Linked DNA regions of Homo sapiens. The protein of the gene in region 1 interacts with the protein of each later gene in a pairwise test. Each region holds a gene or a part of one and is shown in the gene's direction. Other genes may lie near its edges. The genes, in order: KSR2 and FKBP5.

Region 1 (4,030 bases):
AGCATGCTAAGAGTAAAATATGCCAGACACATAATGACAAATACTGTATAATTCCACCAATATGAGATACCTAGAGTAGACAATTTATAGAGGCAGAAAGTAGAACGGTGGATGCCAGGGCTGAGGGGAGGGAGAATGGGGAGTTGTTATTTATTGGATATAGACTTTGCATTTGGGATGATGAAAACATTCTGGAGATGGATGGTGGTGATGGTTGTACAACAATGCAAATGTAATTAGTACCATTGAACTGTACACTTCAAAATGGTTAAGATGGTAAATTTTATATTATGTATATTTTATCACCATTTTAAAAAGGCAGGATTCTGTAAGTGAAGGGTTGGCACACTTTTTCTGTACAGGGGCAGATAGTAAATACTTTAGGCTTTGCAGACCATTCAGTCTCTGTTGCAGTTACTCAACTCTATCATGTAGCACAAAACCAGCACAGACAATAGGTAAACAAATGGGCATGGCAGTGTTCCAATAAAACTTTATTTATAAAAACAGGTACCTGGCCCAATTTGGCCCATGAACTGTGATTTACCAAGCCCTGTCTGAAGCCGTAGTGTAGAGAGTGATCTCTTTTCTGAAGCATTGGGAATGCCCTACAGTGATTGACGTGGAACATGTGATTTTACAACAGTCATATTTAAGCTGCTATGTGAAACCTAGCTTGAAGACGTAGAATGCATGTTTGAGACCTCTGAGGGTGAAGCAGAGGATAGATGCTTTTCTGATTGGAGTTGTGTTTGATTTGCATGGTTTTGTGAGAGCCACAGAGATTGGGGCCTGCTGAAACCTCAAGGTGAAGATGTGGGGTAAAGTTCCAGGAAGGCTGGGAGTGCAGGTTGCTAAGGTGGAGGGTGGAAGAGGCATTTGGGGTTTGGTTGCTACGGTGGCCCCACACTTTGTGCTTCTCCCTGTCCCTTTCCCAGGGTGCACCACTTAGTAAGGCGAAACTTGATCAGAAAGCCGACTCTCCAGACACATCATCTTCTAATCTGCAAGATGGAGGCCAAGTGAGAGAGGCTGCCCTTTGGTTTTTAAATGCTGTCCTTTCCCTAGACCCCTGAAGGATTTATTCTGCCTGGATAGGGTTGAATGGCCCACTTCTTCAAGGCCTTCCAAATTGACTTGGCCACCTTTAGTGTTTTTTGGAATTTGTGTATCAGGACTCAGGTGGCGTTAAGCTTTGCCCTTCAGGTTTCTTCTGGCTGAGTTAGCAAGCTCATCACTTCCTCAAGGCTGGTAGTTCCCTGGCCCACCTTGGGGGATGCTGTGGTTCATGGCAAGGAAGCAGTAGAGGAGAGGAACAGAGTGGTCAGTTTGGTGATGTGGAAAATGCCGTGGGACCACTTAGCCTGGGACCATGCCTCCAGGTTCACAGGGATATCAGGGCAGCAGGCCTGGGGGTGTTAAAAAAACTAAAACATAAATAACAGCAACCTGAATAATGTTGGCAGCGGGGGTCATGGGTAGAGGTGAATTCTGATCAGGATTTATAAAGGAGGCGTTAGTTGAGGTGAGTCCCAATTATTAGACTGATAACAACAGTCATCATTTACCTGGGTCTAAACTAGTCCTGATCCTGCCAGGAAGTAGCCTTTTGACCTTGGATTTAACCTCTCTGAATCTTAGCTTTCTCAGCTGTGGACCCAAGAGGTTAGAATACATTTGTGTTTTTAAATTTGTGGTCATGACCCATTTGTGGTTGATAGCATTATTTTAATGGCTTGTGACCAGCATTAAAAAAATGAAATAGACTAGCCTAGACTAGAGTATATTGGAACACATTGCATCTGGTAAGCGTTTTAGTGTTGTTTTGTAAAACTTGTTTTCAGTAAGTACAGGCATACTTCAGAGATATTGTGAGTTTGGTTCCAGACCACCACGATAAAGATCCCAAAGTGAATGACACGAATTTTGGGTTTCCCAGTACATAGAATAGTTATGTTTTATACCATACTGTAGTCTATTAAGTGTATGATGGCATTATGTCTTAAAAAACAATGTACATACATTAATTTAGAAATACTTTAATACTAAAAAACACTAATGATCATCTGAGCCTTCAGTGAGCCATACTCTTTGCTGGTGGAAGGTCTTGCTTCAATGTTGATGGCTGCCGACTGATCAAGGTGATGGTAGCTGAAAGTTGGGCTGATTGTGACAATTTCTTAAAATACAACAATGCAGTTTTCTACATAGATAGACTCTTCCTTTCACAAAAAATTCTCTGTAGCATGTGATGCCGTTTGATAGCCTAGTAGAACTTCTTTCAAAATTAGAGTCGATCCTCTCAAACCCTGCCACTGCTTTGTCAACTAAGTTTATGCAATATTCTAAAATGTTTCTTGTCATTTCAACAATGTTCAAGGCATCTTTACCTGGAGTGGATTCCATCTCAAGAAACCACTTTCCTTGCTCATCCGTAAGAAGCAACTCCTTGTCTATTTAAGTTTTATCATGAGATTGCAACAATTCAGTTATATCTTCAGGCTCCACTTTTAATTCTAGTTCTCTTGCTGTTTCCACCGCATCTGCAGTTACTTCCTCCATTGAAATCTTGAATGCCTCAAAGTCATCCATGAGGGTTGGAATCAACTTCTTCCAAACTCCTGTTAATGTTGATATTTTGACCTCCTTCCATGGATCACGAATGTTCTTAATGGCATCCAAAATGGGGAATCCTTTCCAGAAGATTCTTTTTTTTTTTTTTTGAGATGGAGTCTCACTCTGTCACCCAGGCTAGAGTGCAATGGAGCAATCTCGGCTCACTGCAACCTCCACCTCCTGGGTTCTAGCAATTCTCCTGCCTCAGCCTCCTGAGTAGCTGGGATTACAGGTGCCCACCATCATGCCTGGCTAATTTTTGTATTTTTAGGAGAGATGGAGTTTCATCATGTTGGCCAAACTGGTCTTAAATTCCTGACCTCAGGTGATCCACCCACCTCAGCCTCCCAAAGTGTTGGGATTACAGGCGTGAGCCACTGCACCCGGCCTCCAGCAGGTTTTTATTTTACTTTTCCCAGATCCATCAGAGGAATCACTATCTATGGCAGCTATAGCCTTATAAAATGTATTTCTTAAATAATAAGACTTGAAAGATAAAATTACTCCTTAATCCATGGGCTGCAGAATGGATGTATTAGCAGGGATGAAAATCACATAATCTGTTTGTACATCTTCATCAGAGGTTTTGGTTGAGCACATGCATTGTCGATGAGCAATAATATTTTGAAAGGAATCTTGTTTTTTCTAAACAGTCGGTCTCAACAGTGGGCTTAAAATATTCAGCAAACCATGCTGTGAACAAAAGTGCTATCATCCAGGCTTTGCTGTTCCATTTATAAAGTACGGGCAGAGTAGATTTAGCGTAATTCGTAAGAGCCCTAGAATTTTTGGCATGATAAATGAGCATTGGCTTCAGCTTAAAAGTCACCAGCTGCGGTAGTCCCTAACAAGAGAGTCAGCCTGTTCTTTGAAGCTTTGAAGCCAGGCACTGACTTCGTCTCTCTAGCTCTGAGAGTCCTAGATGGCATCGTTGAATATAAGACTGTTTCATTTACATTGAAAATCTGTCATTTAGTGTAACCACTTTCATCAGTGATCATAGCTAGATCTAGGTAACTTGCTGCAGCTTCTCCATCAGCACTTCCTGCTTCACTGTACTTTTATGTTATGGAGACAACTTCTTTCCACAAACCTTATAAGCCAACCTCTACTGGTGTCCACATTTTCTTCTGCAGCTTCCTCACCTCTCTCAGCCTTCATAGAATTGAAGAGAGTTAGGGCCCTGCTCTGGATTAGGCTTTGACTTAAGGGAATGTTGTGTCTGGCTTGATCTTCCATCCAGACCACTAAAACTTTCTCCGTATCAGCAATAAGGCTGTTTTATTTTCCTATCATTCATGTGCTCACGGGAATAGCACTTTTAGTTTCCTTAAGAAAAAGAACTTTTCCTTTGCCTTCACAACTTGACCATTTGGCATAAGAAGCCTAGCTTTCAGTTCATTTTGGCTTTTGA
Region 2 (3,500 bases), on another chromosome or scaffold:
GTTATTATTTACATTTTGCAGGTGAGGAGACTAAGCACAGAGATTAAATAACTTGCACAAGTTTACACAGATAGTAAAGGGCAAACTTGGTATTCAAATCCAGGTATTCTGAAGTTAGAGTATGCTGCATTTTTGACCTCTAAAATGTACATCCTCCTTTCTACTGATGGAGAAAGAGGATGAAGATATATAATAAATGAAAAAGTAGTTTAGAACTGAATGTCTAGTTTGCTGTCATTTGTATTTTAAATTTTTTTAAAAAGTGACAGCACACAGTAGGATACCAAAGAAACGTAACAGTTACTTATAAGGAGCAGATGGATGGCCTTTCAGCTTTCACTTTCCATCTCTTTCATGGGTGTTTTAATAATAGGCATGTATTACTTGATTTTTTTTTTTTTTTAAGAGACAGGGTCTCGCTCTGTCACCTAGTCTGGAGTGCAGTGACATAATCATTGCTCACTGTAGCCTCTTACTCCTAGGCTCAAGCTCTTCTCCTGTCTTAACCTCCAAAGTAGCTGGAGCTACAAGCATATGCCACCATGCCGCACTAATTTTTTAAATTTTTGTAGAGATGGAGTTTCACTATGTTGCCCTGGCCGGTCTTAAAACTCTTGGGCTCAAGTGGATGCTCCTGCTTTGGCCTTCCAAAATGCTGAGATGAGAGGTATGAGCCACTATTCCTGGCCACTTACATATATTTTTAACTGAAATAAATGTAGCTGACATTTTGAAAAGTTGTAATATTTAATGAAGATTAAGCTAAAGTCATGAATAAAAAATGGTTTATCTATCCCTGCTTACATACTGTTATGTAGGGTTTCCCTTGTCCTAATATCCTACCACCAGCTCACTTCAAATTCACTTCCTCTGGGGTTCATCTCTTATCTGATCCTACTTTTGAATACTTACATTTTTGTTTTTGTTTTTTGAGACAGGACAGGGTCTCCACTCTGCTGCCCAGGCTGGAGTGCAGTGGCATGATCTCAGCTCACTGCAGCCTTGACCTCCTGGACTCAAGTAGTCCTCTCTCCTCAGCCTGCTGAGTAGCTGGCAAGCACCACCACGCCTGGCTCATTTTTTAAATATATTTTTTTGTGGAGATGGGGTTTCACCATGTTGCCTGGGCTGGTCTCAAACTCCTAAGCTCAAGGGATCTGCCCGCCTTGGCCTCCCAAAGTGCTGGGATTACAGCTGGGATTACAGGCGCGAGCCAACGTGCCCAGCCCCCAGATACTTAATATTTCTGATTGACAGAGTACCTCATTTGTCATTTAGCCTTTTTTTTTTTTTTTTTGGAGACAGAGTCTTGCTGTGTCGCCCAGGCTGGAGTGCAGTGGCATGATCTCTACTCACTGCAACCTCCGCCTCCCAGGTTCAAGCAATTCTCCTGCCTCAGCCTCCTAAGTAGCTGGGATTACAGGCACGCACTACCATGCCTGGCTAATTTTTGTATTTTTAGTAGAGACGGGGTTTCACCATGTTGGCCAGGCTTGAATTCCTGGCCTCAAGTGATCCGCCTGTCTTGGCCTCCCAAAGTTCTGGGATTACAGGCGTGAGCCACCATGCCCCACCAAAATGTAATTTAGCCTTTTAAATGGCCTAAATTTTCTATTGTTTCCGAAAGGACTTGATACTGCTTACAGTAAGATAATGATGCACATCATAGGAACTATAAACATTGAGATTACAATTATATAGCCTAATATAGTTCTACAATTGAGCAGTAAATTTAACTTAGTTTCCTGGAAGTAGGCAAAAAATAAAATATTTTAAGTTCTGTAGTTGTGGTTTGACAAAAAGACACATATGTTTTTGTTTAAAGGAACATTTTTCTGATTCTAAATTTTGAGAAGAAATGTGTTTCATGGACCCTTTTATGCAATTTATCCTGTTCTGGTTACTTCTTGTTTTGTTGTTTTTTTTGTCTACCCAACTAAATTATAAGCTTCCTTAGGACACACTCTATTTTTCAATACTATTTTTGTTCTATCTCTGCCTAGAAAATTTGCGCTTATTATAGTTGAAATGATAAATTAGGCAACAATTGCAACATAGCCATATTTCATGGATAATGTTACCACCAGTTTTCAAAGACTTAATTTTTGAGTAGTTTAGGAATTTATATTACTTTCATCCCTTTCAGCAGGGAATCCTTTTTGAGACAGGGTCTCACTCTGTCACCCAGGCTAGAGTGCAGTGGCATAATCATGACTCACTGAAGCCTCAATCTCCTGGGCTCCCAGGCTTAAGCTGTCCTCCCACCACAGCCTCCGGAGTAGCTGGGACTACAGGTGTGCACCATACCCAGCTGTGTTCTTTGGTTCTTTGGGGTGTTTTTTTTTTTTTTTTAGAGATGAGGTCTTGCTGTGTTGCCCAGGCTGGTGTCAAATTCCTGGACTCAAGCAGTCCTCCCACCTCAGCCTCCCAAAGTGCTGGGCCGATCAACAGGGAATCTTTTGTGATAGCCTTCAAAAAAAATAATTTATTTATTTGTATGTAGCACTCTGTCATCTTGTAGCCCATACTTTCTAGCTGAGTATGTAGTATGAAAAACTGGAAATTAGAACTTTGGTTTTATGAAAGTTAAATCTTTTTAAATAGGGCTTATAGCTTTCAACTACCTTTTCCTTTCCCTTAGGCCAAGTCATCAAGGCATGGGACATTGGGGTGGCTACCATGAAGAAAGGAGAGATATGCCATTTACTGTGCAAACCAGAATATGCATATGGCTCGGCTGGCAGTCTCCCTAAAATTCCCTCGAATGCAACTCTCTTTTTTGAGGCAAGTATGTGTGTGATGTTGCCTTGTCAGCATCTGCTCTACAATAGGAATGGCTTTGAAGCAACAGGCAGTGGGAAAAGGAGCTAAGCTTGCTATAGAGAATCAGATCCAACTTACTTATTTTGGAGCATGGCTTCTTGAATTGTTTCCCACAAACCCAAGGGTGCGCGTGCCAGTGCTTTCTTAGAAACGTGTTTCTAGCACAAAAAGGTCATATCCAAATAAACAAAAGACGCTACACTTAGAAATAAAGATTCTGGTCCATGGTGTGAGTGTGACATACTCAAAATTGACCAGAGTACAGGATGGAAATGTTGGCGATAAATGTTGAAATATGCCTATGTCACGTTGCGGGGTATTTACATATTATAAAAATTTATGTGTCACAGATCTCACTTCTCTAGAAGCCGTTGGTGGTGATAAAACATTATTCATCCTATGTTGAATTACATATATTTGGCAAAACTTGATTTTTAAGAACCACCCCAGCTAGGTAAAATACACCTTTAATCAGTCGTAGGTCACATCCATGAGATTTATTCTTACATTTTGAGAAGGGAACTCCATAAACCCAGGATGGGAAAGTTGTGGCCTCAAACAAAATAGTTCTACACCAGCACCTTGTAGCTCTGGCTTTTTGCCCACAGGGTAGTTTTCCTAGTATTTCCTATCTTTGCACTGCAGTCCCTTAGGATATAGTTCTAGACATTAGCATT

The links.
Region 2: the proteins of KSR2 (region 1) and FKBP5 interact in binary tests that used the Homo sapiens proteins (3 or more experiments, as listed by UniProt).

Annotation. Positions count from the first base shown.
Region 1 is NC_000012.12:117,755,748-117,759,777, reverse strand, and holds part of KSR2 (kinase suppressor of Ras 2), read left to right. Parts: intron 1-4,030. UniProt on the Homo sapiens protein: Location-regulated scaffold connecting MEK to RAF. Has very low protein kinase activity and can phosphorylate MAP2K1 at several Ser and Thr residues with very low efficiency (in vitro).
Region 2 is NC_000006.12:35,619,416-35,622,915, reverse strand, and holds part of FKBP5 (peptidyl-prolyl cis-trans isomerase FKBP5), read left to right. Parts: intron 1-2,641; coding exon 2,642-2,784; intron 2,785-3,500. UniProt on the Homo sapiens protein: Immunophilin protein with PPIase and co-chaperone activities. Component of unligated steroid receptors heterocomplexes through interaction with heat-shock protein 90 (HSP90).